2 separate regions of the Homo sapiens genome follow, and region 2 is linked to region 1. Evidence: fine-mapped QTL for protein levels in blood plasma. A gene starts in region 1. The other region holds a variant in brackets. All regions are shown on one strand. Distances are between the middles of the regions. Region 1 holds the start of QSOX2 (quiescin sulfhydryl oxidase 2). Region 2 overlaps QSOX2 (quiescin sulfhydryl oxidase 2).

Region 1 (16,121 bases):
CACACCTCCATGTCCCTGGTTGGCAGCCCCGGCAGCCTCTCTCCCAGGCCAAGTGCCCTTGGCCGCCAGTGGAAAGTCTGGGTCCCTTGAGCATGCTGGTGAGGACGTTGAGGGAGGCCTGAGCTGCCAGGTAGAGGACCCACCCAGGCCCGAGGGCTCACTGGGCAGAAAGCCGCTCCTGGAGACAGACTCAGGCCGCTGTACCCATCTCCCAGGTGTGGAGAGAGACCAGGCAGTGGACTTGGTCTCCACGTGGCTCACCAGGAGGGTCCTGCGTGACTCCTTAGCAGCTCTCTCCACACAGGCCCCCAGGTGCAGCCCCTAGGGAGTGTTTTCTGGAACTACAGAGGTGCACAGGCGTCCACAATGTCATTGTGAGCTGTGTGTGGCATACACATGCACACGTGGGAGTAAGAACCTAGAGGCCTGGACTTTCCCAGGGTGGACCGGCCGGGCGGCCGGCTGTGCGGGACAGTCTCCTGGACCTTTCCCCGGTGGACCGGGTGGGCGGCCGGCTGTGCAGGATGGTCGCCTGGACCTTCCCAGGGTGGACCGGGTGGGCGGCCGGCTGTGCGGGACGGTTGCCTGGACCTTCCCCCGGTGGACAGGGTGGGCGGCCGGCTGTGCGGGACGGTTGCCTGGACCTTCCCCTGGTGGACGGGGTGGGCGGCCGGCTGTGCGGGATGGTCGCCTGGACCTTCCCAGGGTGGACTGGGTGGGCGGCCGGCTCTTCCCAGGGTGGACCAGGTGGGCGGCCGGCTCCGCAGGACGGTCGCCTGGACCTTCCCGGGGTGGACTGGGTGGGCGGCCGGCTCTTCCCAGGGTGGGCCGGGTGGGCGGCCGGCTCTTCCCGGGGTGGACCGGGTGGGCGGCCGGCTCTTCCCCTGGTGGACAGGGTGGGCGCCGGCTCTGCGGGACGGTCGCCTGGACCTTCCCCTGGTGGACGGGGTGGGCGGCCGGCTGTGCGGGATGGTTGCCTGGACCTTCCCAGGGTGGACTGGGTGGGCGGCCGGCTCTTCCCAGGGTGGACCAGGTGGGCGGCCGGCTCCGCGGGACGGTCGCCTGGACCTTCCCGGGGTGGACTGGGTGGGCGGCCGGCTCTTCCCAGGGTGGACCAGGTGGGCGGCCGGCTCCGCGGGACGGTCGCCTGGACCTTCCCGGGGTGGACCGGGTGGGTGGCCGGCTCTTCCCCCGGTGGACAGGGTGGGCGCCGGCTCCGCGGGACGGTCACCTGAAGCCAGGCCCGGACTGCACACCTGCTTCTTCGCATCAAAGCCACGAAGAGGCGTCCAAGAAAAGGCGTTGCAGCCCAGAGGCAAGAACAGTCAGAGTCGCCAAGAGCAGGAACGAGGACGGGGCGGAGCAGCGCCTATGCCAGGAAGGGGGTCATGGGGATCAGCGAAGGCCAAGAGAGGAAGAGAGAACATCTGGGGAAAAGAAGAGCTGGGGTGGGCCTGACTGGTGCTGACTCACACCCCTGAGCCCTGCTTAGAAGTCAGGGGCATCTGCCTGCTTTGACTTTGGAGGCTCCTCCCACACCCAAACTGCCGGCACATGACGTGCAGCTGGGTGGACTGGGCATGGATGTCTCACACCTGAGCTGCACAGACCAGAGGAAGCCACGGCTCAAGGGCCCAAGGTCATTTCTGCGCAGCCCGCACGGCCGGGGGCTTTTCCTCTGGGGATCAGTGGCCCAAGGTCTCTTCTGGAGCATGCTCAGGACTTGCTGTGCCTGGAAGGCCAGGGCAGCTGATTTCTCCTGGTGCCATGGACTTTTCTTTGCTTCCAGAGGATTCACTGGGACCCCTGTAATTTCTCTGGGACCCTTTTGAATCTGAGGGTCTCTTCTTGAATGCGGAGTTGATGAGCAGCGTGTTGGCCTTAGGGACATCTGTGTCCCAGCACTGATCCTTCCAGGATGTGGCTTCTCCTGTCCAGGGCCTCAGGCCTCCTCCACTTCAGAGAGGAGCATACTCCAGACTTTATGCATGCAGTCTGGTGGGAGGCATCACAAAGCTGGCGTGGCAAAGCCCTAAGATGCCAGGTCACAGGACACACGGAGCTGCCAAGGCCCTCTACCCCATAGCTCTGGTGAGAGACCCCAGGCCCCTTAGAACCTCTTTGGGCCCCCTGCCGTGAGGCAAGAGCCCCTCTCCAGACACCCCTCGCCCGGGAGCAGCTGGACCCAGCCTGCCTTCTCCAGCCCCGGGGCGGCTGCTTAGCCCCAGGTGCCGTTAACAATGGCCGGCCTGTGTCAGGGTCCCCATTCACCATGTGCACAGGAAGCCCAGCTCGGGCCATGCATCTGATTTTGCACCAGCTCCTGCCCAGCCCACCTGAGAATGCAGATGTTTGGATCCAGTGGGGAATGTGTTCCTGCTCCATGCTCCCAATTTCAGAACAAACTTTGAGCTGAGCTACAGCTTTCTCATTGATCCCCTTCTAGTCTTCTGAACAAATTAGTCTGTGATTTTTTATTTTTTTCCATTTATTGCTGACCCTTTTGGATTTATGAGGCCGTGTGAGAGGAATTATGTATCTCACACACACGCATCTGGCATGACGATAAATCTCCACCACTGAAGCCCCGCAGATTTGCAGCGAATCTGATGGCTCCCAGGCTCGCTGCCACGTGGTTGGTGCTGACGTGCGGCGCAATGCGGTGGCGGCTGCAGTCACAGCTGGAACCAGCGTGACTTTCCCTGGGAGCCCAGCAGGTGCCTCGCGTCGCTGGCAGGTGGTAGGGTGCCCTTGAAGGGGGCTGGTCGTGAGGAACGAAGGAAAACCCGGGCCAGGGCTTCCAAGGACAGCGGCCCTGGAGGGGGCCGGAGCCGTCAGGTTACTCTGAGCACCGGAGAAAAAGCCGCTTCAGCAGAGGTGTAAACGCATTTAATCTCCCAACAGGACATATACAGAGCGGAGGGCTTTGGCATTCAGATATATTGACCGGGCAAGATGGTAATCCAAGGTTCCTCCCCTTCAAGGTCTCCTGCTGTATTTGCCTGGGCTCTGATCTGTCGTCACCGCTTGGGCCAATAAATCTTGATACCAGCCTCCAGAGAAGTCATTATCTTTCATAGAAAATGATTATTTCTCAGTTAAACCCTACATTTAATTTTCCCGTGATCTGTCTCTTTCAGCTTCCCTGCTTAACGGTTCCCTCCTGCATAAAATGCCCATGAACGTGTCCGCAGTGCTCCGAGTCCCAAATCATCAGACAAACTTTACGAGTCCCTTTGATTCCCTGCCCTGCGTGGCCATCACGGCCACCCTCATAAAACACGCATGAAGGCCGGGGGCCCTTTATGAAAGGTGGCGGCCGCACACTTTCCTGGGAAGCAAAGCCTCCAGGCACCCAGGGCGCTGGGAGAGCTCACTCACTGCCCAGGCGGAGCAGGGTCCCTGCGGGTCATTTTCTCTGTCCCCAGGGTCGAGCTTGGCCCGTTCATGCCCAGCAAAGCCAGGCTCACAAGCCGTCCTTTTCCCAGCTCCCCAGGCAGCTTTGGGGTCCTGGAAGAGTGTTGGCAGGTCCCACAGCCATCCCATGGTGCCCTGTCCCCGCATGGCAGCATCAGAGCTGGGAGCGGAGGATGGGATCACACACACCCCCTGGCCCTGGCCCTGCCCCGGGGCTCCCAGCCGCCCTTCTCCTGCCCGCCACTCACCATGTCCATCAGGCTGTAGCCGATACAGCACCAACCACACTGGTGCTGGGAGCCAGCTCGGGCTCTGAGGCTGCCTGGGCCCTGCTCCACCTCTCCCTAGGGGTCTGGCAGGAGCCCCTGCCCCCAGACGTGCCTCCATGTCCACAGTCCCTGGAGGGTGGCCACCCACCTCCTCATGGTGTCCTAGTGAGGACATGAAGAATTGTTCCCTCAGGCACTGTCCCGGGCACGTCGCCAGTGCTCAGGGGCTGGCACAGGTGTGCAGAATTTTTCCTCAGAAGTTTTCCCAAAATGGGTGGTGGTCGTTAAGCAGCTGAGCCCTCCATGCCAAACTCCTGCTAAAGGGGGAGACGTGGACAGCAGGGCAAGTCCTGGAGCCGGGGCCATTGAAATCCATTGGGCCTCATCTCTGCTCTCCCCATGTGGAAAGGGAGGCGGCTCAGAGCTGGGTTCTGTCTTTGTCTCCAATGCAAGCATCAGAGTGGGCCCTCCTGGGTTCTGGGAGGCACGTGGGCCTGAGGCCCTCCTCTCTGTCACATACATGCCATGTGCCCTTCACCTCACACAGTAGTCAGCCCTCTGAGCCTCAGTTTCTCCCTCTGTAAAACAGGAATATCAATACCTGTTCCACGATGGGTAGGCCTCTGCAAACCTGCCCCAAAGATGGAGGAGGCTGAGAGGCAGAAGAAAGAGGCTGACAAGTCCAGTTTCTCAGGAAGAAACATTTAGTAGGGACTTACAAATGGAAGCCACATCTGTGTCTCTGGAGGCACCGACAGACGGGATCCCGCCACCACCCCCAGGCCCAGGGCTTATCTGCCATAGGGGAGGCTGGTTTAGAAGGAACGTGCAGAAACCTGAAGCAGACAGCATCAAGGCTTTGTGCCCTAAGGGTGGGATTTACGGCAAGTACCTGCTCTACACAGGGAACAACAGATCAACTGGAAATCTTGGAGGCCTTCCCGGAATCAGGCTCATCAGGATCCAACACAGCAGATTAGGTCCAAGATGCTGCTGCCTCAGCCTGCACAGTGCCTTATCTCATCATGTCTGAGATGTGATCTCCCCGCATTTTGATCTCTTTGAAGCCAGAGCTGTCTCTGTCAGGGCATCTGAAAATGGCCACTGGCCGCGTGTTTTCTCGCTCCGCGGCACGCACGCTAACCGCGCCTGCAGTCACCTGGCCTTTGCCACAGCGACGTGCGATGCCTCTCCTGCAGGTGGGGTGGGGGGCAGATTTCACGCAGGCTTTGGGCAGGATCTGGCTCAGCACAGACAGCTCTTACGTAGACTCCGAGATTCAATCCTAACCCCTTCCCCTCCCCCGCCCTGCCTTAGATGGGAGAAACTCTGGTTGTTTTGGGGTGTGGCCTCTAAGTGCTGGGCTAAGCTTGGTCCCAGGGGTGGCTCCGTTTCACCGAGCAGGTTTGGGGTGAGGTGTTGCCCCGATGTTCCGAATGTGCCCCTCCAGTTGGGCTCATGACGTCCTCTGTCTCAGCCAGATCAGCCTCCTTTCCTCCACTCCTTGTTCCCCTGCCACCTCGCTGCTGCTCCTTCTGGAGGCCTGGGGCTCAGTGTGTGGCCCTCCCCTCTGTCCCACAGCCTCCCCGGGGGACCTCAAGCAGCCTCAAGCGCTGAGCTCCAGACTCGACTCCCACTTCTAAACCCTGACCTGACACCTCCCTTAGAGGTTGAAAAGGCTGCTCAGATGTAACAGGTCCAAAGCAAACTCATGGCATCCTCCCCAGCATAGCTCTCCCATCTCGCCGCTGCAGGATTTAGTCTCAGCCGTAAGCAACCCCATTCCTCTGGTTGCTTTGGCCCAAACTCTGCGAATGTGACACCCTCTGCCTCCACCCAGACTCAGCCGACCCCTCCACCAGCACTGCCTCTCACCCCTCCCCGGAGTCCCTCCAGCTTGTGGAAGGAGGCGGCGGCCCCTCCCAGGTCCCCTGCTTCCCCTCCTGCCCCTCCTACTCTGCAACTAGAAGGGCAGAGCTGCATCCTTGCACCGATCCTTCCGTGGCCACCCCCCCATTCAGCATCAAAGTCTGAGTCTGCGGCCCAGGTTGTGAGGCCCCCTGGGTCTCGCTCGGGCTCTCAGCTTTTCTTCCCTCCCACGCTTCCCCCAGCTTGCTCCGCTCCCACCAGGTCCGGCTCCTTGCTGTTCCTCCAGCGTGCTCAGCACCCTTCTGCCCCAGGGCCTTTGCATGTGTGCCTCCTCCCTCACCTCCTTCTCCATTCGGGTCACCTTCTCAAAGACCTCCCCACCCTCCTCTGTACGGCAGCCCTGCTGGCACCTGCTTCCGTGTCCGGCTTCATTGCTTTTCATAGCACGCGGTGGCTGCTTTACGCGTTGGTTTGTTTGGGGTCTGCCCAAATGCAGGCCAGGGACACTGGGGGCTCGGTTTTGTTCTTGATTTGTCTCCAGGGCTTGGCACAGAGCAGAAGCCAGGAAACGTGGGTGATGGAAGGAAACATGAACAGGGAGACGCAGGACGTGAGGAAAAGGGAGCAGACGCCTTGGCCAGGGGCCCTCTGGGGAGAATCCTCTCATCTGGGGTTAACCATTGTTAGCAGCAAAACCTTTTAAACAAAATCTTACACAGAACCCCACAATACAGTTATCTATTTATTTTGAGACAAGGTCTCGCTCTGTCATCCAGGCTGGAGTGCAGTGGCAGAGTCACGGCTCACTGCAGCCTCAAGCTCCCAGGCTCAAGCCATCCTCCACCTTAGCCCCTCAAGTAGCTGGGACTACAGGTGTGCACCACCATGCCCGGCTTTTTTCTTTTTTTTAAGAGATGGGCTCTCGCTATGTTGCCCAGGCTCGCCCACTCCCTTGTTTTGTTTTGGTCACACAGTTCAGAGAAAATCTTGACATGTGTAAAAATTAGGAATAGGAACAAAAAAAAAAATCAGGTATCCTGTTCAATGAAGCAAAAAAGTCATATGATTTCATTTCCAAACCGTGAAGCTGCATTCGACTGGAACATCCTAAAAGGTAGCACACAACACATCTGACTTTGAGTGGATGTTTTGCTGCATTTTCTAAGCGTTCCAATATCATATTAAAAAGTCGAGGCTGGCTTGCAGACCCTCTGAAGCCCCAGGTGGGGTTGCCAAGTAAAAGAACCCCGGAATAGTTTTTTACGTCTAAGAATGTCTTGTTAAATTTGTATTTCAGGCATGGCACAGACCTAGGCTGAAAAACCGACTCACTGTTTGTCTGAAATTCACGTTGAACCTGGCGTCGTGCACTTCCATTTGCTAAATGTGGCCACCTGGCCCTGTTCAGGGAAGGGGTTTGGGGAACGCGCGGCGGGGTGGGGCGGGGCCTGGGCGGAGCCTGCCGCGCCTGGGCGGGGAGATGGCGTCATCAGACTCTTGGGGGCGGGGCTGCCACGCATGGGCGGGGGCGGGGGCGGGGAGAGAGGGCGGGGTCAGACGTGAGGGGGCGGGGCGGAACAGAACTGGGCGCGCGGGGGCGGGGCCGGGCGCGCCGGCGCACGTGACGGTGGTTGCCAGGGTGAAAGTTCAGCGCGCCGGCGGCACTTCCAACATGGCGGCGGCCGGGGCGGCGGTGGCGCGCAGCCCGGGAATCGGAGCGGGACCTGCGCTGAGAGCCCGGCGCTCGCCCCCGCCGCGGGCCGCACGGCTGCCGCGGCTGCTAGTGCTGCTAGCGGCGGCGGCGGTGGGGCCGGGCGCGGGCGGTGCGGCGCGGCTGTACCGCGCGGGCGAGGACGCCGTGTGGGTGCTGGACAGCGGCAGCGTGCGCGGGGCCACCGCCAACAGCTCGGCCGCGTGGCTCGTGCAGTTCTACTCGTCGTGGTGTGGCCACTGCATCGGCTACGCGCCCACTTGGCGGGCCCTGGCTGGGGATGTGCGAGGTGAGGCGCGCCCCCGCGCGGGGACCCCCCGACCCCCGGGACCGCGGCCTTCCGGGACCCCTTGCGACCGCCCCAGAAGGCGGGTCCCGGGGCCCCTCCCCCGTATTTCTTTCCTTACCGCAGAGCCAGTCCCTGCCCCACAGAGGCACCCGACTCGGACCAACCCTGGCCTTTCCAGGGGCGGGAGACTAAGCCAGCTGCTCCCCATGTCTCTCCCAGTTAATCCCCGTTAGATCCTGACGAGTTGGGCTGTCTGAAGTCAAAATGAAACCATTCTCCCGCAGCCCTCACCGCACGCTTGGGGATAGGGAAGCCCTCCCGTATCCCAGCTCTCAAAATACCTATGTTTTGAGCCCCAAGAACTTCATTGACCTTCCAGGCCTCCTACCCTACCTGTTTCCTAGCGTCCACACACCCCATCCCCAGTGCCCAGAATTCCTGTTCTCTGAGGATCCCTCATTCCTATTCCACACTCGTAGCCACCCCATTCCCTTTGAACCTTCATCATTAACTTTCTGGTTCGGATCGCTGGCCATATAGTGGGTGCTCAAAGTGAACCCACAACTTAGAAGTCCAAATACTCTGGAGACTTCTCTATAATACCCCAAAACAACCTATAAAGCAATTTTTTTAACTCTACAAAGAATTTCATTGGTGGGCTCCTTGATCACAGATGCACAGCCTTTGAGAAATCTTTCACCAAACTGCTGGTAGTGTTCCGCACTTTATTGTTTAGTGCTTTCATCTGGTCGCACGTTGTTAACCAGTCACGAAGTTACTCGCCTGCTCTACAGGTTAGAGTTGGCGTGGGAGGGGGCATTCACAACACCCTTCCCTTAAAATGGTATTTAAATCACTGAAGTAGGAGGTCCTCCCGACCCAGTGAGGTTTGGCAGGACTTCCTGTGTTGTGCTAACCTCAAATTACATGTTTCAGTGGGCAAGATCTGTAACAAATTGCTACTCTTTCTTCCTGCACCTTTGTTTTTATGCCTTACACCCAATCCTGCTGTATTTTTCTCATCGCAAACAGATTTGTAAAGAAACTTTTTTTCAAGTCTAAGTAGGGCTTTTGTATGTTACTGTAAATGGTTATCTTTAAAATGCATTCTCCTCTTAGAGAGCTGGGGCCTTTTGATTCTAATGGATTCCTCCTCTTTGATCTCATGTTTTCTTATGTCCCTGTTGACCTGACTCAGAACTGAGGTCAGAGACTGGAAGAGATGGACAGAAAAACTGTTCAGTGGGGTTTTTAGACACTGCTTTTAGGAAAACAAACAAGTAATTCAATCACGTAGGGAACCCTTCAGTTCTTGTGTGTTATTCAGTGGCAGAAACAGATATGTTCATTAAAATGCAGGTGGCCCTGGCAGGACTTGGTCACTTTTTTTGTGGGTTTTGGTTTTGATTTTTTTTTTTCAGTTGAGTCGCTGAAGTCTAAAGATCGTACCAGATTCAAATATTGCAAATTCTGTAACCGAAGCAGCACATAGGCAGCCTTGAGAACTGTCCCTGGAGCTCAGAAGGAAGGCCCCTCCTGAGAGCCACACAGTAACGTCCATACCCAGTGGTGTGATGAACTCAACTCAGTAAGCCTCCTTTAGTGAGGCTGACTGTCTTCCCAGTCACGACAGGAAGAACAGGCTTGTGCCTGAGACTGAGACTGGAGGAGGATATGGCTGAAAGTGAAAGACAGCGGTGACCTGACCAGGCAGCAGGGAGAGGGCTTCAGGGAGCCCAGGCAGAGGGTCCTGTTGGCTAAAAAGCCAAACTATAAAATACTGAAAGAGGTTTGTTCTGAGCCAATAAGTGTAGTGGCCATGGCCAGGGGAACAGTGTCAAGAGGTCCTAAGAAAGTGTGCTCTAGGCAGTCACGTTAATTTGATTTTATACATTTTAGGGAGACAGAAGTTATAGGCAGAGAGACATAAATCAGTACATGTAAGGTATAGGAAGGGGTAGGTTTACAGATCATAGGTGGATTCTGACTGGCAATTGATTGAAAGAGTTAAGCTTTGTCTAAAGACTTGAAGTCAGCAAAGAGAAATGCTTGAGTTAAGCTAAAGGGGCTGTGGAGGCCAAGGTTAAGTAGATGAAGCCTCACAGGCAGCAGCCTTGGGGAGAATAGAGGGTAAATGTCTCTTTTCAGACCTGAATGCTGTCAGACTCGTTAAATGTCTCCTAGATCCAGGAAAGACCTAGAAAGGGAGGGAGATTCTCTACAGATGCAAATTTCCCTCACAAAAGACAGCTTTGCAGGACCATTTCAAATATGTCAGGGAAATAAATGTATTTGGGGGTGAAATATTTTGATTTCCTGCAGGGTGTGCTATTTGTCATGTGGTGCTGTACCCGAGTCAGGCTGGAGTTTGGTGTCGTTGCTGCTGAGGCTGTGCTGTCTGTCTGTGATCTCTGTTTCATCACGCTGGTCAGCTCTGCCTAAACTCCAAAGGGAGGTGATGTAACCAGGCGTGTCTGACCTCCCTTGCCGTCAGGGCCTGGAATTTCTTTCCTCAGGTTGCCCTGGGGTCTCCTTGGCCAAGAGGGGGTTCAATTCAGTCAGTTAGGGGACTCAGGATTTTATTTTTGGTTTACAGTCCTGAGAGCCAAGCTGTGCCCATGAGGCTTGTGGGAGGTAGAGTCCGGGTAGAAAGGGATGAAAGGCCCTTGGCACTGAGGAGTCCCCGGAGCTGTTCTAAGGCTGGGACTCTCAAAGTAGGGCCACTTAGGGCCTTGTTAGAAATGCCTGCTTCTCCACAGCCCCAGCCCAGACCTGCCAGCTCAGAACTGTCTGCTTGGCGCCTGGCTCCCTGTCTGTCATCCCTGCGTGGAGCTGTCCCACAGGGATAGGGCGCCCATTGCCCGTGGCAGTGCAGGGGTCTGGCTGCATGCAGGCATTCCCGTTGTCAACATTCTCATGTTTTCTTATGTCCCTGTTGACCTGACTCAGATCAGTCACCTGTGGCCCTGATCAATCACCTGTGACTTAGGTCATCCTGCTGATCCCCTGGGGGCACACAGGCCATGGCTTGGGCCCCCACTTCTACCTAGAGTGTCCAGCCGCCTTCTCCCACTGGTCCCCCTGGCCAGCGCCCGCCACGCCCTGCGTTCTTCATGCCTGTGGCTGCTGGAGAGGATGGTTAGGTGTGGGCTCTGCTTCCCAGGAGCCTCCAGCTGGAAGGAGCAGGACAGGCCAGGGCACCTTTGTTTTCCTCAGAAATTTGGATTGAACTTTAGCTCTTGACTGGCTTTTTCAAGGCTGGGAAAATAAATGTTTTTTCTTATAAGAAGGTGGCTTAAGAAACAAAAGTTGTACTGTTTGGTGTGACCAAGTGTCATTCTAGTGTTTGTGGAGATTTGGCTTAAGCCTGTCACTTCTAAGTACTTTGCAGAACAAAACCTTGTTGGGTTCCTGAAGATCTGCCTGGCAGTGATGGTTGCTGGGTTTGTGATGGAAGATGAGGCACCAGGGCCTGGGGCTACACTTTGGCCCGTCTGACCGGTGAGATCTCCGAAATGCCTCTGCAGTCTTGAGTGGACAAGAGGGTGCACCCTAAAGGCAGGGCCTGTGTCCCCGTGCGCCCTCTGTGGCCCTGGTGCCTGTTCCCTCCCATCTCCTTCACTTGGTCAGCCTGAGAAAACAGGGCAGGCCACCACCCACAACAGGCTGAGTCCTCCTAGACCTGCCCTCAGGAGGGCGGGAACGCTTATGTTGTAGATGATAGCACATGAGGTTGCGTGGAACAGGCCGAGTCCTCCCACACCTGTCCTCAGGAGTGCGGGGGCGCTCATGTTGCAGGTGATAGCACGTGAGGTTGCGTGGGATAGTCACGGTCACGCAGCTGAGTGACAGGCCGGGATGGGTGTCCAGGTGTGGGTGACCTGGAGCCATGGCAGTTCATTCCTGTGTCTTTGTAGAGGACAGGTGGGGGTTGGGAGCTGGACACATCCGACATCTCTTGAAGGAAGGGTAGGGCATTCTGTGATTGCTGCCAGCTCCTCTGTCCCACTTGGTCTGGTTTCTTGTCTACTCGACTAGGCTGCAGGCTTCTTGGAGATGAATTAGAACTTGGTGTTCCCCACAGGCTCATTGTCCGTTTACTGGAAAAAGAAACAATAAGGGCCAGAGGGAGGGGGACATGCAGGTGTCAGCGGGCATTTGGCGGGGCTGACGGCCCGTGAGAGCTGCCAGGTGCTCACTGGACTCGGGAGGATGGAGAGGGTGGAAGGAGGAAGAGTTGGGCAGTGGAGGCCTCCTGTCTCCTTACGGGCCCAGAAATGGCTTAATGTAGCCCCGCTGTGGCGACCACATGAGTATTTTACAGAAAGGATGGTGCATCGGAGCAGCCGGGCTCCCCGCTGGCCTCCCCAGTGGCTGTGGTTGGTGCGTCTGAGACTACACCGAGAGACCCAGGCCACTTACTTGTTGTTGAAGTAAGACGGGATGGTTTGCTAAGAGGGCCTTACAGCCACGTCCAGGGAGCCGTCTCCGCTGTGTCATGCCGGTCGTCGTGCCATGGGGTGACCCAGGTCATAAGCACTGCTTGGGCTTCCCTGACAGAGGACGGGCTGAGGGACTGTCATTCCCTACCAACAGATAAACAGCATTGGAATTGCTGTCACCTCGGAGCACCCTTCGAGGCTGAAGAACGTGTAGTTTTGGTTTACCAGAATTGAGTTAAATGCTGGGGATCAAGAGTCCATGGGACCCAGCCCTGCCCTCAGTCCCCAGATGAGGCGACCGTAGCGTGTGCCCGGGTTTTCTCAGACCAGCCCTTGGCAACTTCTAGGTGATTTGTGTTAGGCTCTCCTGGTCGCTAGGTGGGTTTCATTTCTACCCAGGCCTGTTATTCCAAACTTGTGCCTTGAACTTGGAGCTTAGCTAAGAAGACCTTTGCTCAGCCAAGAGGGGGCTCCACCCAGAGAGGGTCTTCTCCAGGGACTGGTATGCGGAGTTCGAGACCCCAGCATGGCCCTGACTCAGGAAGGAGAGGCTGCAGTGGACCTCTGTCCCTTAAACACAGCTCCCTAGTTGCCTTTCAACTTGGGAGATTGTTTTATCTTTACTGTAATCATTTTCTAGAACGATTTGATACTGGACTATACATTAGACTTCTGTAGACTTTTTCATTAGAACGTGACAAGCAGTAAAGAGTTAACCTTGTTAGATTCAGTATTAGAGTTATTTGACAAGCACATTTGAAATAAATGTTAATCTACTATATATAGAAGCTTAATTATTTCCCAAGTATTTTTAAGACTGGAGTCCTAAAATAGCCAGGCTCTTGAGCAGAAGTGAGAATAGGCCTGCGGTCTCATTTCTGCCTCCCTTTGGAACCCCCTGGCTGTGCTGGGTTGGGCACCCCCGCCCCTGCCACACCCTGTGCCTCTCAGCTGGCTCTAACCCCAGAGGCCCAATGAAAGCAGGCCATTTGCATTCTGCTTTAGAGGTTCAGAGCTAGACAGGTGGGCAGAGCAGGAGAAGGGGAGGGTACCCGTTGAATGAGGCCAGTGCCCTGAAGCTAAGCCTTTTACGTGTTTTGTATTTGATTTGATAATATGGACTACCATATCTTTTGTGTTGCCATGAATACCGTCCATCTGCCGAGTCCTTGCCGGTACTCCTGGCGCCTGTTCAGCTGCTGAGGGAGGCCTGTGTAACTGAAATTCTCCCTCATCTGCTCGGCCTTCCCTGAGCACACGGCCTGGCATTCTTTCAAGGACAGACAAAGGCGACGTGGGGTGCCCGCATGCCCCTTCACCAGGACTGACCCTGAGTGGGGTGGTGGTGTTGGGAGCGTAGCTCTACTGAGGCAGGTCGAGGTGCTGCCCCTGCGGACTGGTGGATGGAGCTGGACTTCCCTCGCCCTGCAGTGTGTGCAGGGGCTCTGCGTGAATTCACGCTCCGGGATGAATTTGCGCTGGAAATTCATCTGTTGGAGGAACAGCAGGGAACAAAGCAGGGAGGTCCCCACCTGAGGAAGCCTGTGCTTTAGAGGGAGTAGCAGACAGTCAACAGGAAGACAAATAAAACAAGGAAGTGGCCGGGGCAGTGGCTCCCGCCTGTAATCCCGGTACTTTGGAAGGTGGGAGGATCACTTGAGCCCAGGAGTTCAAGACCAGCCTGGGCAACATAGCAAGATCCCCACTCCTGTGGCCCCAGCCACTTAGGAGGCTGAGATGGGAAGATCACTCGAGCCCAGGAGGTTGAGGCTGCAGTGAGCCGTGATCACTCTCCTGTACTCCAGCCTGGGTGACGGAGTGAGACCTGTCTCAAATTAAAATAAATGAGTTACCTATAGGTTGTAACTCCTAGAAAAATGAACAGACCAATTAGAAAGAAACTGGAGTGGCCCTGGGTGGTAGAGCAAGGCGTCAGAGGGCAGCGACTTGGGAGAGGAGCCACGAGGTGAAGGCCCTGCCAGGGGCATGGCCAGCACAGAGGACCCGAGACAGCCAAGACTGCAGTGTCCAGGGGACCTTTTGTTTTAGAGATCGGTCTCTTCGTGTGGTCCGGGTTGGCTTTGAACTCCTGGGCTCAAGGGACCCTCCTGCCTCAGCGTCCTAAGTAGCTGGGACGATGGGCAGGTACCACCACGCCCGGCTAAAAGGACTTTGATAGGGTCTTGGTCGCTCAAGGGGGCAACCACGAGGTCCCTGAGGGCCCGGCAGCAGGCAGATGCAGGCTCAGTAAACGGTGCTTGTCTTCTTCCTGAGCAACAGAATGCCAAAGAACAATTTTAAGCAGGGAAACCTGGTTTCTAGGTAAAACTCTCTGGCTGCTCTCTGGAGAACTGAAGACCAGAAACCAGCGGAGCACAGTGGGATGTGTGAGAGAGGCCAGGCCGCGCGTGGCAGCTGGGGCCTGAGGGGCAGAGGGAGGGTTGGCACAGCCAGGTGGGAGGAGGCTGCCCGCCGGGCTTGCTCAGGGCCTGGATTGCGAGGCGGGAATGAGGCCCGGGGAGCGTTGTCTTTGGAAGGCCAGCTCAGGGTTCCCTGAAGTGTGAGGGATCCTCGGGGAACAAAGGGGAAGTCTGTGCCTTCCTGGTAGAATTGTGGTTTCAGGTCATGTAGACAGTGTTTGGGCAAAAGTTACCGAAGGCCATGTCTTGTCTTCTTGGAGCATGAGAGGGTGCAGGGAGGTGGGCACGCACCTGAGATGCGGAGCAGCGTGTTTCGCTCCTGCCCAGGGCACGGCTCTTGTTCCTGGCCCCTGGCTGATCAGTTTCCCCGTCTGACTAGTTTTCTGCATCCTGTTGCTAAGGAAATATTAGGTAAAACCTGGAAATAGGACAAAAAGCTGAGTCTTGTGTCCTCTCAGCATCATGTTGGGGTGTTGCACAGGCTCGCCCAAGGGCTGTGACCTGGGGCACGGACATCTGTGTGTTTATCCTGCTGTTCACTGCTGATTAAGGGCCCAGGCTCTGTGGTTACTCGTGAGCTCGCCGACCTCATCTGTCTGGTAGACAAGGAAAGCCCAAAGGTTGTGGTTTTCTTGCCCCATAGGACAGTTTCTTTGTGCACTGTCCCTGGGGGCAGATAGCACTATTCTCTGTGCTCCCCACCTGGCCTCACCCTTTCCTTCAGCAGTCCCAGTGGAAGAATGTTGTTGACGCATGTTCACTCTGCGTTTGTGTGAGAATCGTGTGTTTAGCTTTTGGAAAATTCTACTTGGACACTGGCACAGGACGGGCTCCAGGTGACACTGGCACAGGATGGGCTCCAGGTGTGGCACAGGACGGGCTCCAGGTGACGCCGGCCCAGAGCAGGCTCCAGGTGTGGCACAGGACGGGCACCAGGTGATGCAGGCCCAGGACGGGCTCCAGGTATGGCACAGGACGGGCTCCAGGTGACGCTGGCCCAGGATGGGCTCCAGGTGTGGCACAGGACGGGCTCCAGGTGACGCCGCCACAGGACGGGCTCCAGGTGTGGCACAGGACGGGCTCCAGGTGTCGCCGGCACAGGACGGGCTCCAGGTGTCGCCGGCACAGGACGGGCTCCAGGTGTCGCCGGCACAGGATGGGCTCCAGGTGTGGCACAGGACGGGCTCCAGGTGATGCAGGCCCAGGACAGGCTCCAGGTGACGCCAGCCCAGGATGGGCTCCAGGTGTGGCACAGGACAGGCTCCAAGTGACGCCGGCCCAGAGCAGGCTCCAGGTGTGGCGCAGGACGGGCACCAGGTGATGCAGGCCCAGGACGGGCTCCAGGTGACGCCAGCCCAGGATGGGCTCCAGGTGTGGCACAGGACAGGCTCCAAGTGACGCCGGCCCAGAGCAGGCTCCAGGTGTGGCACAGGACGGGCACCAGGTGATGCAGGCCCAGGACGGGCTCCAGGTGACGCCGGCCCAGGATGGGCTCCAGGTGTGGCACAAGACAGGCTCCAGGTGTGGCACAGGACGGGCACCAGGTGTGGCACAGGACGGGCACCAGGTGTGGCACAGGACAGGCTCCAGGTGACACCGGCCCAGGACGGGCTCCAGGTGACGCCGGCCCAGGACAGGCTCCAGGTGTGGCACAGGACGGGCACCAGGTGATGCAGGCCCAGGACGGGCTCCAGGTGTGGCACA
Region 2 (16,121 bases), 29 kb after region 1:
AGTCAGACAGACGATGATTGACTTCCTGCAGAACCACACGGAAGGAAGCCGGCCCCCTGCCTGCCCGCGCCTAGACCCCATTCAGTGAGTAGCTCCATGAAGAAGGCGGCCGTTAGACTCGTGTTGAACTGTGCAAGAAACGTAATAGGTTTCTATTAAGTGATGTGGCCACTGGGATGTGGTGGCCAACTCGCTGCTGTTGACGGCACTAAAAGCCTCTTTTTTTCCTCTTGAAAGGCCCAGTGATGTTCTTTCCCTTCTTGACAACCGTGGCAGCCATTACGTGGCTATTGTCTTTGAAAGCAACAGCTCCTACCTTGGACGGGAGGTACGGCCTCTGCGTGGGCTCCAGGTGTCACACGTGGTGTGATTGGGGTTGGCGGTGGATCTGTGATGAGATTTGCAGGTGCCGGTCACTGTGTCGGCATCTCGTGTCCTGTCTGTGGCTTTAGGTCTTGTTCATTATCAGAAGCTTAGTTAATGTTACTCAGCAAAGTCACTGGTGTCTGGAGAAGACTGTTAGGATGAATGAGCTTGGCGGTGGGAGGGGTTCAGAAGGTGGCCTAACCCTAGGTTTGAAACTAAGAGGGGGCTTTGCAGAAGATCTCATTTTTATGACACGCCCAGCTCACCTTGAGGTCATTCTGTATTTTGTATGCATTATTACTAAGATTTTTTTCGTTGCCGTATTCTGAACTCTCAACATTTTTGCCAAATCCAAGATTCTGTAAAACGTCGTTTCTATCGTCATACTTTGATTTCACACGTACAGTTCTGAAGCCTTGCTTCTGGCCAAGTCTAAATAAGGTCCAGGGACCAGGTGCAGGGGCAGCTCACGGAGAGTCATTATTGCTGACAGTCTTCCCGGAGACGAGAGAAAGGCCTCACTGCACATGCGTTCGCCCAGCACTCACCCTGAGCTTCTCCTCCTCCTCCTTGCAACTTGATAGGCGACTGTTTTTCTGTCCACTGTGAGGGGCCTTGCGGTGAATGTAGGAAACAGCTTTGCCCCTGCGAGGGCTTTTGGAGACGCACTTGGGAAGGCAGCTGCAGACACCTGCACTGTGACCGTCTCGCTTTGTGCCCTGGCTGCCCTCCTGGCACCCCAGCACCGCCCCCTCCAGGTTTGATGGTGACGCCAGGCTGCCTCCAGATGGTTGGCCAGGATTCTCTGTGGAGGGCTGAGGAACCGCTAGCAGTGTGTGGCTCTCCCAGACCCCTCACCCCTGTCCCAAGGCCCCTCGTGCCCTTGCTGTCTCGGGCGGGGCCTCCACACACGCAGACCAGAGGCAGGTGTTCCCCTGAGAAGAGGCGGGTGTGGGACCGTCTTGGTGCCGGGCACGCTCCCCTACCTGCCTGGCATGCTGGTGCGTTCGGGGCAGCCAGGCTCCACTCGTGCAGGAGGAGTGCTCTTCAGCACAGAGTCACGGCATGGCCCAGAGCAGAGACCAGTGTGGCCCCAGAGTAGCGATCAGCTCTTCGCAGACACACCCAGCTCAGGAGAGGCACGGCCACGCGGGGCGCCCAGTTCACACCTTTAGCCAGGGCCCTTGGTTTGAGGAGCAGCTGGTTTTGTTCCTCTGTTAAGAGAAGGAAAGACGTACGCCCGATGTGGTGGTGGCGCACGCAGGGTTTCTTCCAAAATCCTGAGATGCCACTCCTGTGGTCTCTCTGCCACGGAGACCCTGTTGCTGCCCCTTCAGCCTGAGCAGAACCAGACAGGAGCAGGGTGGCTGGGGAGGAGCGGCAGCACGAGGCCTGCTGCCCCGGCCACGAAGCTTCCACACGCGGGACGGGAGTGCGAGGCCGTGGGGTGTGGCTGCTGTGTGCAGGGACTCACTTGACCAGTATCAGTGTTGTGGGGGGCGCGCTGGTTTTAGAAAGTCAAGTGCAAATTCGCGGATAAGTGTTTTCTTTGATGAGTTTGTAAAATTGCCGAATAAGACCGTGGTTTCTGCTCATGGCGTGTGTGCCGTCAGTTGCCTTAAAGTGCAATGAGAGTGAAGATTTGAGTGAGGGTCTTGCCTGCAGGGGGACAGACTTCATGCCCTTTTGTGAAAGGTTCCCTGCAAGGCCATGTGTCTGCACGTCGTGTTTTCTGAGAAACTGCCAGCCCCTGTGGAAGTGTCATTGTGTTCTCATCCCCCAGGTGATCTTAGACCTGATCCCGTATGAAAGCATCGTGGTGACCCGAGCACTGGACGGGGACAAAGCATTTCTGGAGAAACTTGGTGTTTCTTCAGTCCCTTCGTGTTACCTGATCTACCCAAATGGGTCGCATGGATTGATTAACGTGTGAGTGCCCGGGTGGGGTCTGGGAACTCCGTGCCGCTCGGAGTTACCGGACAGAGGCTCCGAGTAGACAGTGCAAGTCTGGTGTGAGATCGGGGGAGCCCTGGCCCCTCCGCCTCGCTTCCCTGGGCAGATTTGGGCCCTGGCTCTCAGCCCGTGGGTATTGCTGATCTGTGCTGTGTTTTCGTGGATTTCTGTTTTCTCACTGCTGTGTCCCCGCACCTAGGAGGAGCCTGGCGTGGTGACTTACCAAGAGTCGCAGAGGAAACCGTGGCTAAACCAGCACATGCATGAGGGCTGCTGGGCCGGGGCTTTGGGAGCAGCCGATGCTCCTAAAACCCTGCTCTGGGTGGACTCTTGGGATGCAGTTTGGGTCTGTGTCTGGGGCTGGCAGACAAGCCCACGTGCCCACCTCTGCAGAATGAGAAGTAGGGGTGGGCACCAGGCCCTGCCCCTCACGTTCTGCTCTTTCTCTAAGAACTGCAGAACCTTGGCAAGCCCTTTGCCTCTGCGTGGGGTGCCCGTGTGCCCCTCATGAGGATAAGCCCTTCGCCCCTGCGTGGGGTGCCTGTGTGCCCCTCATGAGGATAAGCCCTTTGCCCCTGCGTGGGGTGCCCGTGTGCCCCTCATGAGGATAAGCCCTTCGCCCCTGCGTGGAGTGCCTGTGTGCCCCTCATGAGGATAAGCCCTTTGCCTCTGTGTGGAGTGCCTGTGTGCCCCTCATGAGGATAAGCCCTTTGCCTCTGCGTGGAGTGCCTGTGTGCCCCTCGGATAAGCCCAATGAAAAAGTAAACAACTTGAATCAGGTTAGAAAAAGAACAGTGAGAAAAATGAGGCTGGGCACAGGTGAATCATTTGAGTCTAGGAGTTCCAGACCAGCCTGGGCAACATAGTAAGACCCCATCTATACTAAAAAAAAGACTAGCCAGGTCTGGTGGTGTGCCACTGTAGTCCCAGCTACTCAGGAGGCTGAGGTGGGAGGATCACTTGAGCCTCAAAGGTCAAGGCTGCAATGAGCTGAGATCCTGTCACCGCACTCCAGCCTGGGCGACAGAGTCAGACTCCATCTCAAAAAAAAAAGAAAGAAAATGAAAAATGGTTGAGAAAGTTAAGTAACGTCCTGAGGCTGGAGGGGCCCCGCTCCTCCTCACCTTGGGGAGAAGGACAGCGTGAGGAGAAGGACAGCGTGAGGCTAGCCTGCCCTACACTGGGTGGCCCCTTCCCCTGGCCTGAAGTTGCAGCACCTGCAGGCTTCCAGCATGTGCTGGTTTAGCCACGGTTGACTCTGCGGCTCTTGGTGACTCACCACGCCGGGCTCCGAGGTGCAGGGACACAGCAGTGAGAAGATAGGACGTGTTTCCTGTCTCTTGGGGCTTCCAGTTCAGCCTCCTCAAAGATCGACTGGGGCATAGAGGGCGCCTTACAGAAGCCCAGAACACCGCAGTTTCTTAAGTATTTTTCTTTCCTTTTGAAAAAGAGGCCAGGCTCACACCTGTAATCCCAGCACTTTCAGAGGCTGAGATGAGAGGATTACTTGAGCCCAGGAGTCTGAGACCAGCCCAGGTTGATAGTGAGACTCCAGCCTATGACAAATAAAACATTAGCCGGGCGTGGTGGAGTATGTCTGTGGCTACATCTACTCAAGGGGCTGAGGTGGGAGGATCATTTGAGCCCAGGAGGTTGAGGCTGCAGTGAGCTGAAATTGCACCACTGCACTCCAGCCTGGGCAACAGAGAAAGATCCTGTCTCAAAAATAGATAAATGAGTGAAAATACAAAAGATAAAGCTGGAATTCAGGGTAACCACAGAGGCCATTGAGCTTGTTGGGAGATGCTCTGAGTGCTTGGGGGCCTGGCTCTGCCAACGAGGTGGCCCATTCCAGGCCTGGGGCACAGCACTGCACTTGGCAGAGCGGCCTGAACCACTCCCAGATGTTTGTTTAGTGTTAAAAGTATCATCTAGACAACTTCTTAGTGTCAAATAATGTTAATATTTTTATAGATATTTTAATGTTTTTGCAAATAGCACTGCTACATTCTGTCTTTGGAAACAAGCTCCACGTCACACTGAAGTGCTCAATAATGGCATTGAGGGTGTCCTCAGAAGGCAGCTCCACCCTGTCCACACAGCGTGGGCACACAGGGGGCTCAGCTCCACCCTGTCCACACAGGGTGGGCACGCAGGGAGCTCAGGGGCCTGACATCAGGGAGGGGCTGACGTCCACCCCAGGCCCCGACTTCCAGATGCCTCACTCAGGGCTGGCAGATTGTGGGCGCGTCGGTGAAGGCTCTTAGGCGTGTTGGAAATCGCAGTCAGAATAAAGCTCATCTTGGCAGATGCTCAACCCAGCTTTACAAAACGCCTTAAGGTCCCCACAAACATAAATGAGTCATAGTACTTATTACAACTGGAACTGGTTGTAAATCTGTGGATTTGGTGTGTCTCCTCTTATCCCCCAGGTGGAAGCGCAGCCGGAGCCCAGGCGGGGTGTCAGCTGTTCCCACTGACTCCCATGCCCCAATAAATGCCCAAAGGATGAAAGGGGTGGCCCAGAGCTGTCCTGAATGCCACGGCTCCTACTTTAGGATTTTATAAAGGAGGCTCTTCTCACCTTTGCCCTCCCCTCTCTCACAGCGTGAAGCCTCTGCGGGCCTTCTTTTCGTCTTATTTGAAGTCATTGCCGGATGTGAGGAAAAAATCGCTTCCCTTGCCTGAAAAGCCACACAAAGAAGAAAATTCAGAAATCGTGGTTTGGAGAGAATTTGACAAGCAAGTGTTCCTCTTGAACTGAAGCCCCCGGAGACAGTGCGTGTAGACCGAAGGCTGCGTGCTTGCAGGGCGGGTTTACTCAGAAACCCACCCCAGCCAGTGAGGGCCGCTCAGGAGCCCTCCCAGGGGCCCTGGGAGTCCGTGGGGAGGAGCCAGGACAGGGAGACTTGCTGTGGAGGGAAAGGTTGGGCATTCCCTGACGCTGCCATATCCCGTCCTAGGTCGAAGCTGTACACGGTGGACCTGGAGTCAGGGCTACACTACCTCCTGCGGGTGGAGCTGGCAGCCCACAAGTCCCTGGCCGGAGCAGAGCTGAAGACGCTCAAGGACTTTGTGACTGTCTTGGCCAAGGTTTGGGACGGTGCTGGTCTGGGCTGCATGTGGGAATTTGGCTCTGCACAGAGTGGGCCCTGGGGGGCGTCGGACACTGCGGGGGCTCCGCCAGCTCCGCTGAGGTGCTCTCCACCTTGCTTTGTCGCCCAGGCCCACGCCCCAACTCATTCCACCCATTTCCCGAGTGCCTCCTGCGTCCACTGCTGTTCCCAGCACTGGGGCTGGGGCGGTGGGTGTAGAGAGGGGCGGGGGTGTGAGCCGAGCACCTGCTGGAAAAGCCCAGCTCTGGCTGCCTGGAGAGTAGATGGAGGAGGGAGCGGAGGCCCACACACACCTCAGCTGGCTCTCAGAGGAGCGCTGCACGGGGGCTGGGGGGAGAGAGAGAGGGAGAGGCAAGGGCTGTGCAGATCCAGGTGGGGTGTGCATCTGCCCCACCAGCCAGGTTCAGGGAGGGGTCCTGGGAGCTTCACGCTCAGCACCATCACCAGCACAGATGTGGTGTCTGAGACCACTGAGGGGGTCGCCAGGAGCGGGCAGAGATGCCACCCAACAGAGCTCAGGCCTGGCCGTGCCCAGGGTCAGGCTGAAGAGGACCAGCCAGGGAGGTGGCCAGGTGTAACTCCATGAGCTCGGTTGCTTGTTACTGTCTAAATGACAAGAAGGCTTAGGCTTAAAATATTTATCTTGCCAAAAATAAGATGCATGATAGAATAATTTATAGTGAGCACTTTGGATAGAGTTTACTTACAAAGTGATTTGTGAAAAGTACAGGAAATCTTGAAGGACTGGAGGTGCCTCAGATGAATGCATGAACATTGCCCAGGCAGCTTTTTCCCCCACGGTGCCATCCAGAGTTCAGAAATCTCTAGCTGGCCTCATTTCCTTTAAGAAAGTGTCCTGCTAATCTGTCCATCATATTAGTGGAGGACAGTGTGGCTCTTAGTGGTGGTGGCCGCCGGCCAGCTAATTCGCTGGAGTCGCACAGCTGTCGCTAGGCAGACCTGCTCTCCTCTCCCGGCTTCTCCGTCTTCCCCTTAGTCTAGTTAGGCTTGGAGCTTTTACACTTGTGCTCTGGGCAACTCCTGAGGCCAGGGTATTAATAAGTTATTCTTAATATTTTTCTGAAGTTTACTTGGATGTCTAAAATAAATTTGATTCTGGTAAATTAATCATGGTACTTTTTAACCTGCACGGGAGAAAATATATTGGACTGAGCTGAAGATGCCGGCGTTTCTGGTCTGGCATCGCCACCTGTGAGCTTCAGCTCGGGTTTGAGGAACTCTTTTGGTGGCTGGTGTTTCTGGTCTGGCATTGCCACCCGTGAGATTTCAGCTCGGGTTTTCGGAGCTCTTTCGGCAGCCTATGTTTTGCACAGTTTGTGGTGCAGCAGCTGATCAGAGTTTCTCCTAAAAAGACAGAGCCCTGGGATCTTCTCAGCCAGACGCCTCCCCAAGCTGTGTTGATGTCGGCCAGCCTCACGGCCCACACAAGCCCATAGGCAGTTAGCCCCGGCTGCCGGCGCATGTGCACTGCCGCGCGCCCTTCATACAGTCAGTGACGGCAGAGGGGAAGCCCAGCGGGCGGGCAGGCGGGGTCAGCACAGCTCCTCGTGAGGAAGGCAGAATAAATCAGCAAGCCCCCGCCAGCTCCATGATGAGTCACACACCGTGACCTTGCCTGTCACCTGGCCGGAGCGAGGCCGTGGGCGCAGGTGGGTGAGCTGCAGGCACGGGCTGGAGAAAGGCATGGCCGTGGGCACAGGCTGTCCTGGGGAGAGGCGCAGGCTAGATGCCCACCCCATGGCCCCTTGGGTTTCCTGCCTCCCATCAGAGAAACCCGAGTTATGAGAGGCCCCATCCTAGGTTCAGCCCCTCTGCGGATGGAGTGCTTCTCTTTGGAGGTGCGGTGCCCCCCGCGGTGGGGGCGGGCCCGGGTTTGGGTCTGTAGCTCTCAGGTGGCTCCTTCCTCATGCAGCTGTTCCCTGGACGGCCGCCAGTCAAGAAGCTGTTGGAGATGCTGCAGGAGTGGCTGGCCAGCCTTCCCCTGGACAGGATCCCCTACAACGCCGTGCTTGACCTGGTCAACAACAAGATGCGGGTGAGCCCCAGAACCCTCGCCAGCCACGCTGCACCCTCCTTCCCTCGCCTTCCTTCCCTTGCCCTTAGCTGGTGCATCTCCCTGCTCGGGGCCCGGGCTCCGCTGTGAGGAAGGGGAGCAG[T/C]GACTTACTGTCTCCACGACAGCATCATGGCCATGGCCTCCTGTCTGCCTTGGCAGCGTCATGCTGGGACTTCAGTTTAAGGACAGCTCACCAAAAGTGCACTGTGACCACCTGTCCTTTGGACAAAATGGGGTTTTCTCAAGCAACGTAGTAGTTGGGCTTTTTAAATTTTTAGTAAGCCAATCTGACGAAAACTGATGTATTCAGTAAGTGTGGCAGCCTTTCCAGAGCTTTCCCCAAGACCAGGTGCCAGCAGGTGCCAGTCTTTGCTCAGGGGACCAGCACCCCAAGAGGTCCTGGCACTCCGTCCTGCCATTCCCTCCTTAGTCCAGATCAGCAGCTTCTCTGTGGCCCCCAGAGTGTTTACTCGCGGGCAGTAAACCCAGCGTGCTGCTTGTCCGACGCCCGCGTGGTCAGTGCACACAGCAGATCTTCTGGGAATCCTGTAAGGTGCACTTGTCGTGCCGTGATTTTGCCAGCTTTGTCATTTGCTGGCTGCAGCTGAGAAGCAGACGGTGCCGGGCTTCTTGCCTGAGTCTGTCTTCCACCTTGACTCTACTCCGAGCTCGAGGTCATGGGAGCACTCTCACGTGACTGCGACGTGTGACATCTCCCTCGAGAGCACGTCCTGGGCTCAGGAGTCCTTAGGGAGGAAAAGGTTGATGAGACACGAAACCAAACCCAGCGGAATCTGCCTGGGGCTCTCAGCCCTCCCAGTCCAGCAGTCACCCACTCTGATGGCCACCCTATTGCTTTTTCAAAGTGAACACACCTTGTTTGTTCTGGCCAAGAATTATTTGACAGTTGAGCTTTTTTCTGTTGTTAGTTGCCTTTTCTCTTAATACTGTCCTTACAACTAATTCTAATTTAAAAGAAAAGGTGGATACATTTTATGCTTAATATTACTGGTTTATCAAGATACAGAAGAACTGTCTCTTCAGAGATTGGCTTGAGAGCTCCTTTAGTAAAGGAGACCATTTCCTCTCTTTTGTTTTATTGAATTTAAATTTGCATATGGTAGGAGGCACAGATCTTATGTGTACAGTTGATACAGCTTCAGTAAACCACACCCCCATTATCCACCCCCCCCAGTCAAGAAGGCAGCTGTCGACTGTTTTTAATTTCAACAATTATCTTTTATTCTTTGGGGTTTTTTTGTTTGTTTGTTTTTCAGATTTCTGGAATATTCCTTACTAATCACATAAAGTGGGTTGGATGTCAAGGAAGCCGATCTGAGTTGAGGGGTTACCCGTGTTCTCTCTGGAAACTGTTCCACACTTTGACTGTTGAAGCCTCGACCCACCCAGATGCACTGGTTGGCACAGGTAAGCTGTGCCCATACAGGCCAGAGGGGCCGATGGTCTGCCTAACAAGTTAACCCAGCCGGTGTGTGCAAAGGCATGTACTGCTGTATGGGAGGCAGCATGTCGCCAGGCCACTGAGGCAGGGGAATGGCACTTCAGACTCCTCTCACACGGTCAGCTCACCCAGGGCTGTGGCTGCGGGGGCACGAGTTCCCCTTGTCAGAACTCGCAAGGATGTGCATGGCTAACGTGCAGGAAATAAACCATAAAGAAGAAAGAGTGCTGGCTGGGAGTTTCCCTGCAGTGTAAACTCCCTGTTTTTTGCTTTAAAAAGACAGAATAAGTGAAATCTGTTTGGAGAGGTGTTCTCATTATCAGCTGTTGTATAACAAATCACCCCAAAATTTAGCAGCCAGAACCACGGGAACCACGCACGGTTATGAGCTCATGGTTTCTGAGGGCCGGGCATGGCCTCATCTGGGTCCTCTTCTTCAGGATTGGTCAGGCTGCAGTCGGAGTGTCAGCTGGGCCTGGGGGGTCACCCAAGGCCCACCTGGGGAGAGTGGCTTCCCAGCACCCTCATGGGGCAGAGAGCAGGGCCTGCCTCCTTGCACGTGGCTTGCCTAAGGCCCTGAGCTCCATGCTGGCTGTTGACTGCAGGCCACGCTCAGGGCCTCTCCATCGGGCGGCTCACATCATGGCAGCAAGCCTCATCAGCAAGCCAGTGAGAGGGTGCCTATCCGAGGATGATATTCCATCACCTCTGTCAGATTCTGCTTACTAGTCAGTCCCCAGGCCCAGGCCACTCGCAAGGGGAGGACATTACAGGAGGCGTGAGTATAGGTGGTGTGATCTGTGGGGACCGTCGCAGAGGCTGCCCACCACAAGGGGTTAAAACCTATAAAACTTCGAAGTTGGATTTAATAATTTTCAATTACTAGGAAATAGATAAAAACAAATTTTCTGTCCTTCACAGAACACTAAAGTATGTATTGGATTTTTTATCCCCCCTGAATTTTGTTGTGTGTGTGCTTCCCAGTTGAAGCAGTAATTCAGGTTCATTAATGTTTACTTCAAAGCCGAAGTGGAGTCTTGACTCACACAGTTCAACGCTCTTTCCAGTAAGATTCTCAAATTCCTTTACGGTTATTTTTTGCCACATAACAAACTAACCTAAAATGCTGGGGCTTAAAGCAGCCACCACTGTTTGCTTATCATGCTGTGGATCAGCAGTTTGGGCTGGGCTCGGCTGGGCGGTTCTTCTGTGAGTTGCTGCTTGGGCTCACTCGTGTGTGTCTGCCTTCGTCTGGTGGCAGCTGGTCAGTCCAGGGGACCTTGGAATGCCTCGTACTCCTGAACGTGGCTTCCCCACCAAGTAGCACCAGGTTCAGGCAGGACCCCCTGAGAGTCCACCTCAGTGTGGAGTCACATATTATTACTTCTGCCGCATCCTGTTGACCCAGCCTAAATTCGTGGTGAGAGAAATAGATTCCACCTGTTAATGGGAGAGTGTCCCGGGATGGGGGCACTATAGTGGCCTTCTGAAAATCTGTTTTGGCCCTCCTCAAGGTGATATTGGATTACTGCTTCTCGGGGGTCTGGTTGGGGGAGAGGGTGGGTTTTAACCTCAAATCCTTTTCATAATCATACAGAAAAAAAGAGTAGTATGTTTTTGGGGAGAAACCTTGGGAGCTGTCCAAACAGAAATTGAAATCACAGCATCCACACTGCCTGATCTAATGCCCAGCTAGACCATGCAAACCTGATTCCGACCGAATGCCCAGCCAGACCATGTAAATCTGATTCTGAGCTGTGCACAAGGCTCACACCTGTAATCCCAGCACTGGAGGTTGCAGTGAGCCAAGATCATGCCACTGCACTCCAGCCTGGGCAACAGCAAGACTGTCTCAAAAAAAAAAAAAAAAAAAAAACACAACAAAACTGCTTCTGAAGCGTGAGCCTGAGTTAGGAAACCTCACGTTTACACATGGAAAGTTCTGGTGAGGAGATGAGCTGACATGCCATCCCCCTTTCCGTCTGCTCTGATCACACGGGCACACGCAGGCATGAGGAACGGCTCCTTGAAGGCAGTGTGGGTACAGTGTTGGCCAAGGGGAGAAGTTGAGTGACCGGGGTATTTGATTTTAAACTCTTCTAGGACCAGCCCTAGTGTAGTGGAATTGTAAGAGCAGTGTGATGGCAAAGCACACTGCTAGCAAGACCCTCAGCGCTCCTTCCGCCCATCAGCATATTGGAAGCAGCCTCCAGGAGTAGCCTCCTGCCAAGAGAATTGGGTCAGAGGCGACCACGGGATTAAGTCTTGGAAGGTTTTTCTTCTCTTTACTGTATGTTTAAGCCCTATCTAGTAAAATGCCTGTGAAGGCCTCTAATCCTCCCACAGGTAGAGGTTTATGGTTCTTGTCCACTTTAAAGATTAGGGTGGCCCCGCGCCTGCGGTGATGTGGGGAAGAGGAGGGGGATTACGTGGAGATGCAAGGCAGATGTCTGTGGAGCCCTCCCGGCAGGAGAGCAGGGCAGACGGGCCGGGTCACAGGGCCAGCGCCTGCGGTCCCATCTGAGACACCGCCCAGCTGCCCGTGGACACGCTCAAGGCTGAGGAGGAGGTGGTCTGCTCTGCTCTGCTCTCACCTTTCTGGGTGAAATAAACAAGAAGTGTCGGGATTTGGGACCGACCAGGACGCTGAGGTCAGGGCCTGCACGCAGCTGTGTTTTGCAGGGAGCCACGACAAGCGTCAGGCCTGCACTCACGCGGGAAGCTCCCCCAGGGCCTGCTGTCGATGAAGACGGATTCATTCGCGAAAGCATGTCTTTTTTTAATGCTGACATGTAATCTGTTTTAATCTCATGGGTCTCCTATCTGTGCGTTCAAGCTCCTGTGTCAGTCGTCTGAGTGGGGACTGCCGAGCCCCGCCCCATGCTGCCCCCTTGGTTTTCTCAGGGGTTCCCCTTGGTTGCGGTGCTGGCTGCTTCCTGCCACCTGTGGGCAGGTGTTGCTTTCTTGAGATGTGTGTTGTTCATTCACAGTATCTGCGGAAGCGCCCCGGCCTGTCCATGTCTGTTAATACGTTCGGTGGCACAAACTCTGGCTGTGGGTGCACCCGTCCCTGTGCCTGCCCACCTGCTCCACATCCTCACGCCCGTGGCTGGCGGCAGCTTAAGAGTCACTTCCTAAGGCCGTGTCCCCACTTGGGCTGGTGTCCTGCAGGGCTTTCAAACGCGACAGCTGCAGGTTTAGAATGAGCAGAGTCATTGCCCTGGTACCAGCCCCTGAGAGTTGCTTGTAAGGCAAGAGAGACTGCACCCAGCTGGCAAATCCCGGGGAAGAGCGGCACTCCGGGCGTTCTGGCACAGACGGCTGGAAGACTGGTGGGAGGTGGGAGGCGCCCCTGGAAGGGCTCCTTTGGGCCCTGGCGGCCGAGTCCGTGGCTCATCCTCCTGGCACCAGGGCATCTGGGGAGCATGTCCGCCCTCTGGGCTGTCCACAGTCATTGTGTCTCCAGAGCCTGCAGCACCCGTGGGCGTGTTGGACATCTTGGCAGGTGCTGGCTTCTGGTCTGTGCCCACAGCCTGAGGCCCCTGGGGAGACATGAGGTGGCTTCCCGACATGTCAGGAGCGGTTTCCCCCCAGGCTCTCTGGACAAGCGTGGGGTCAGGTGATGCCCACGCACCTGCCGTTGTCAGCAGTGTTTCTTCCCCTGCAGGCTTTGAAGACGACCCCCAGGCTGTGCTGCAGACAATGAGGAGGTACGTTCACACCTTCTTTGGGTGTAAGGAATGTGGTGAGCACTTTGAGGAAATGGCTAAAGAATCCATGGACTCGGTGAAAACCCCAGACCAAGCCATCCTCTGGCTGTGGAAGAAGCATAATATGGTGAACGGCCGCCTGGCAGGTGAGAAGCCCCTGGGCATGGGGGGCTCAGCACGGGCGGAGGGAGGCCCTGGTCCTGGGACAGCAAGGACGGCACGGCTGCCGTGGGGCTTGTCCCTGAGCTTTGCGGCCTCGTGCCACCCACTGTGCTGACGGGATCAGGACTTGGGTGGCTGAGAGCTGCCAGAGCTGCAGCCTTTCCCAGGCTGCTTCTGTCCCCGGCTTTCTAGATGCTTCTCTCACTCCGGGGGCTCTTCGACCCCGTGGAAATGGGTGTGGCTCTTTCTTCCCCCATCGGTACCCACTGGTAGCCCGTTAGACTCTGAAGATGTTTTTGACTCTGGAAAGCTTGGAACGTAATTAATTTTTGATGAGGAATTTTAGTAGTATGGAAATCTGTTGTCCAAACGTAAACCAAACCTCTCAAAGTGCTTTGTTTTGTTAAAAAAAAATAATTAAATAGGGCACATGTATTTTCTCAGAGTTAAGTACTTCAAACTGTTCCTAAATCAGTGGCAGATTAAAATTAGGCTTAAAAATAATTCCACTGAGAAATCTTAATAGAGATGAATAGAAAATGCCACTAAACTATTGGTTTTTATTTAATCCACTGTGTTAGAAAAACATATTACAGCTGAAGCACTAAAGAAATTGGTTTTTCTTTGCCCTGAGCCTGACTGCCGGGGCCGGGGTCATGTGACGAAGGCGCTGTGTGTCTGCGGGGTTTGTTCCCTCGGTCAGCGCAGCTTCTCCGTCTCTCCGCCCTGGCAGCCTCTGCATCGCCGCCGCCCACAGAGCTCCCTGTGCTTTCCCCGAGCCCTCGGCTCTGAGGCAGTGGGACCAGGACCCTCGCCAGGCCTGCCTGGACCTGGAGCCCCTGCTGCTACCTGTGGCCCCAGCCCGCATGTGCCCCCACTACCCCAGTCATGAGACTGCAACAGAAAGGGGCCTTACAGCCCAGTGTGATTGTCACTCCTGAGATTCCCACTCCAGTCCCACCTCCAGCCTGTGCATTGAGACCCAAGCTCCTGGGAGGCCCCTCGGAGATGTGCCTGGGGTCTTCTGCCCAGGGCTGGCGCCTTATTTGACAGTCCTACATGAAGCTCTGGCAGCTTCTGACCAAGGTGCCACTGGTCTGTGCTTGTCCCCTCTGGCTTCGTGTGCAGCACCTGCTGCCGGTTGGCCGGATAAGCACGCAGTCAGTGACTGGCCCGAGTAGGGCATCTCTTGATTTCAGGCACGTCTCAAGTCCCCCAGACAAACGTGGTTGTGTTTACATTCACTTCTGGAAGCTCTGTGAGGGTGGCCAGGTGTCAGCAAGTCGGGTCGCAGGGGCTCCGAGAGCTAGGAGGCGCCGTGCGCCGCAGCTTCTGCATGACGGATGCCTGTTGGGCCTGGAAGTGAGCACATGTCACTTCAGAAACGAGTTTTGGAGATCTTGAAGGGATTTGTAGTCCGGAAAGGGCCAGTGTACCTGAAGTGCAGTGGAAATTCATTGCTGCCCCTCTGCCCTTTCCTGAAGGTGCACCTAAGGCCCACTGTCCATAGCACCCAGGTGGCCGGGGCTCTGTAGGTAGTGGGCCTCAGGTGCACCCTCAGGAAAGGGCAGAGGGGCAGCAGTGGGGGGAGGGGCACACAGGCAGCACTGTGCGGAGAAAGGCCTCCAGGTGAGAGCTGCATGCTCCGTTTTGGAAGTGGAGTGCTGGGTGGTTTGGGACAGGTGTGGTCTGGGAAGTGGCGGAGGCCGAGCGTGTAGCGTCTCCTCACTTGCAGGCTATGGGAACCGGCAGAGGGGAACACGTGCGCAGGGGCCTGCAGAAGCAGGATGTTATCTGGGCCGAACTGCAAGGGACGGGTGGTGGGAAGGGCAGGGAGGGAGGCCTGGCAGGACCCTGGGCCAGGGCAGTGGAGGCCCGTGGTGGGTGGGAGTGGGAGTCCGGTTGCCGCACGCTGCACGTGGCTGCACAAAGCCTCCTTCCCTCTGGCTCTCCCGCTTCCTTTTCTTCCTAGGCCATCTGAGTGAGGATCCCCGGTTTCCAAAGCTTCAGTGGCCCACTCCGGACCTCTGCCCAGCCTGCCATGAGGAAATTAAGGGCCTGGCCAGCTGGGATGAAGGCCACGTGCTCACATTCTTGAAGCAGCACTATGGCCGCGACAACCTCTTAGACACGTATTCCGCAGACCAGGGGGATTCCAGTGAAGGAGGAACCCTGGCCAGGGGTGAGGAAGAGGAGAAAAGACTCACTCCCCCAGAGGTGTCCCATGGAGACCGAGACACCCAGAGCGTCCGTCCACCTGGTGCACTGGGCCCCAGGCCTGCCCTTCCAGAGAGCTTGCATCACAGCTTGGACGGGAAACTCCAGAGTCTGGATGGGCCCGGGGCCCACAAGGAGGTGGGCGGGGCCGCACCCTTCCTCGGGGTTGACTTCTCCAGCCTGGACATGAGTCTCTGTGTCGTGCTGTACGTGGCTTCATCCCTGTTCCTCATGGTGATGTACTTCTTCTTCCGGGTGAGGTCCAGGCGGTGGAAGGTCAAGCACCACCACCCGGCCGTGTGAGTGCCCGGGTGCTGCCAGCCACGGCGGAAGCTCCCTTGGAGGCAGCCCTGCCCCGTGCCACCTGCAGCTTTAATATTTATGATCAGGGATTTTATAAACATGCGGGCCTGGTTTCACATCGGATGGCACCTTTTGGCTTCAAAGTCCTGGTTTTACAAACGCTCTTCTAACAAGGGAAGAACACGGGGTAATTTTGTGGGGATATTTGCATTCCTGGCGTACTCAAGTCTGTTCATGCTCCTTTTGCAGGTCTTACAGCAAAAAGACTTCTGTATTTTTACTCTTCTAGATGTGAAAAGAGGGTGCAGAGTCCAGGCCAGATAGTCTTCCCCACACACTTTCATCTCGTTTCCTCCACTCCGCCCCATCCTGCAGGGCCTTGTTTTTGTATTTGGAGAACCTCGCCCATCCCCCCCGCGGCTCCTGGCTCCCCCCCACTCCCCTCGCTCCCCCTCCCCCCGCTCCCCCCACGCCCCCTGCTCCAGGCTGCCAAGTGTTTTCCTTTAGCCGGGCGGGGACAGACAGAGCCGGAAGCGCAGTCGGCCTCTGCAGCCCCTCCAAGCAAGTGCTCCAGGGACTATCCTGTGTTTGTAGCTGCTTCCCTAGGGCAGGTTCCTGAGGGCTCTCCTTGTTCCTCCGGGTGTTCGACACCAGACGTGGGGATTTCAACAGGGGAGGAGCCAAGGAATTCTGTGGCTGTGCTGCGTTTCAGAAAATAACCCCCAGAGGCCTTGGGCTGTGGACCTGGGGGTTGGAAG

The links. PIP is the posterior inclusion probability: the model's chance that the variant is causal. Sun 2018 read protein levels with aptamers (SomaScan).
Region 2: its variant is fine-mapped to the plasma level of the QSOX2 protein (Sun 2018, PIP 0.95).

Annotation. Positions count from the first base shown.
Region 1 is chr9:136,236,910-136,253,030 of GRCh38, reverse strand. QSOX2 (quiescin sulfhydryl oxidase 2) reads left to right here and starts at 7,219. Exons shown (of 12, transcript NM_181701.4): 1 at 7,219-7,555. The coding sequence starts at 7,228. It overlaps CCDC187 (coiled-coil domain containing 187), which reads left to right. Exons shown (of 26, transcript NM_001378188.1): 26 at 1-3,058. RefSeq lists enhancers at 4,330-5,184, 13,290-13,818 and silencers at 6,982-7,251, 7,282-7,691, 12,945-13,074.
Region 2 is chr9:136,207,970-136,224,090 of GRCh38, reverse strand. It overlaps QSOX2 (quiescin sulfhydryl oxidase 2), which reads left to right. Exons shown (of 12, transcript NM_181701.4): 4 at 1-84; 5 at 238-328; 6 at 2,150-2,295; 7 at 4,927-5,061; 8 at 5,283-5,412; 9 at 7,369-7,491; 10 at 8,787-8,937; 11 at 12,639-12,827; 12 at 14,816-16,121. The coding sequence ends at 15,363. Among named protein-coding and RNA genes, the nearest start is that of LHX3, 11 kb to the right of the region's middle. RefSeq lists enhancers at 7,581-8,084, 11,881-12,657, 14,555-15,104, 15,105-15,656. The variant T/C (reference allele first, on the strand shown) is at 7,613.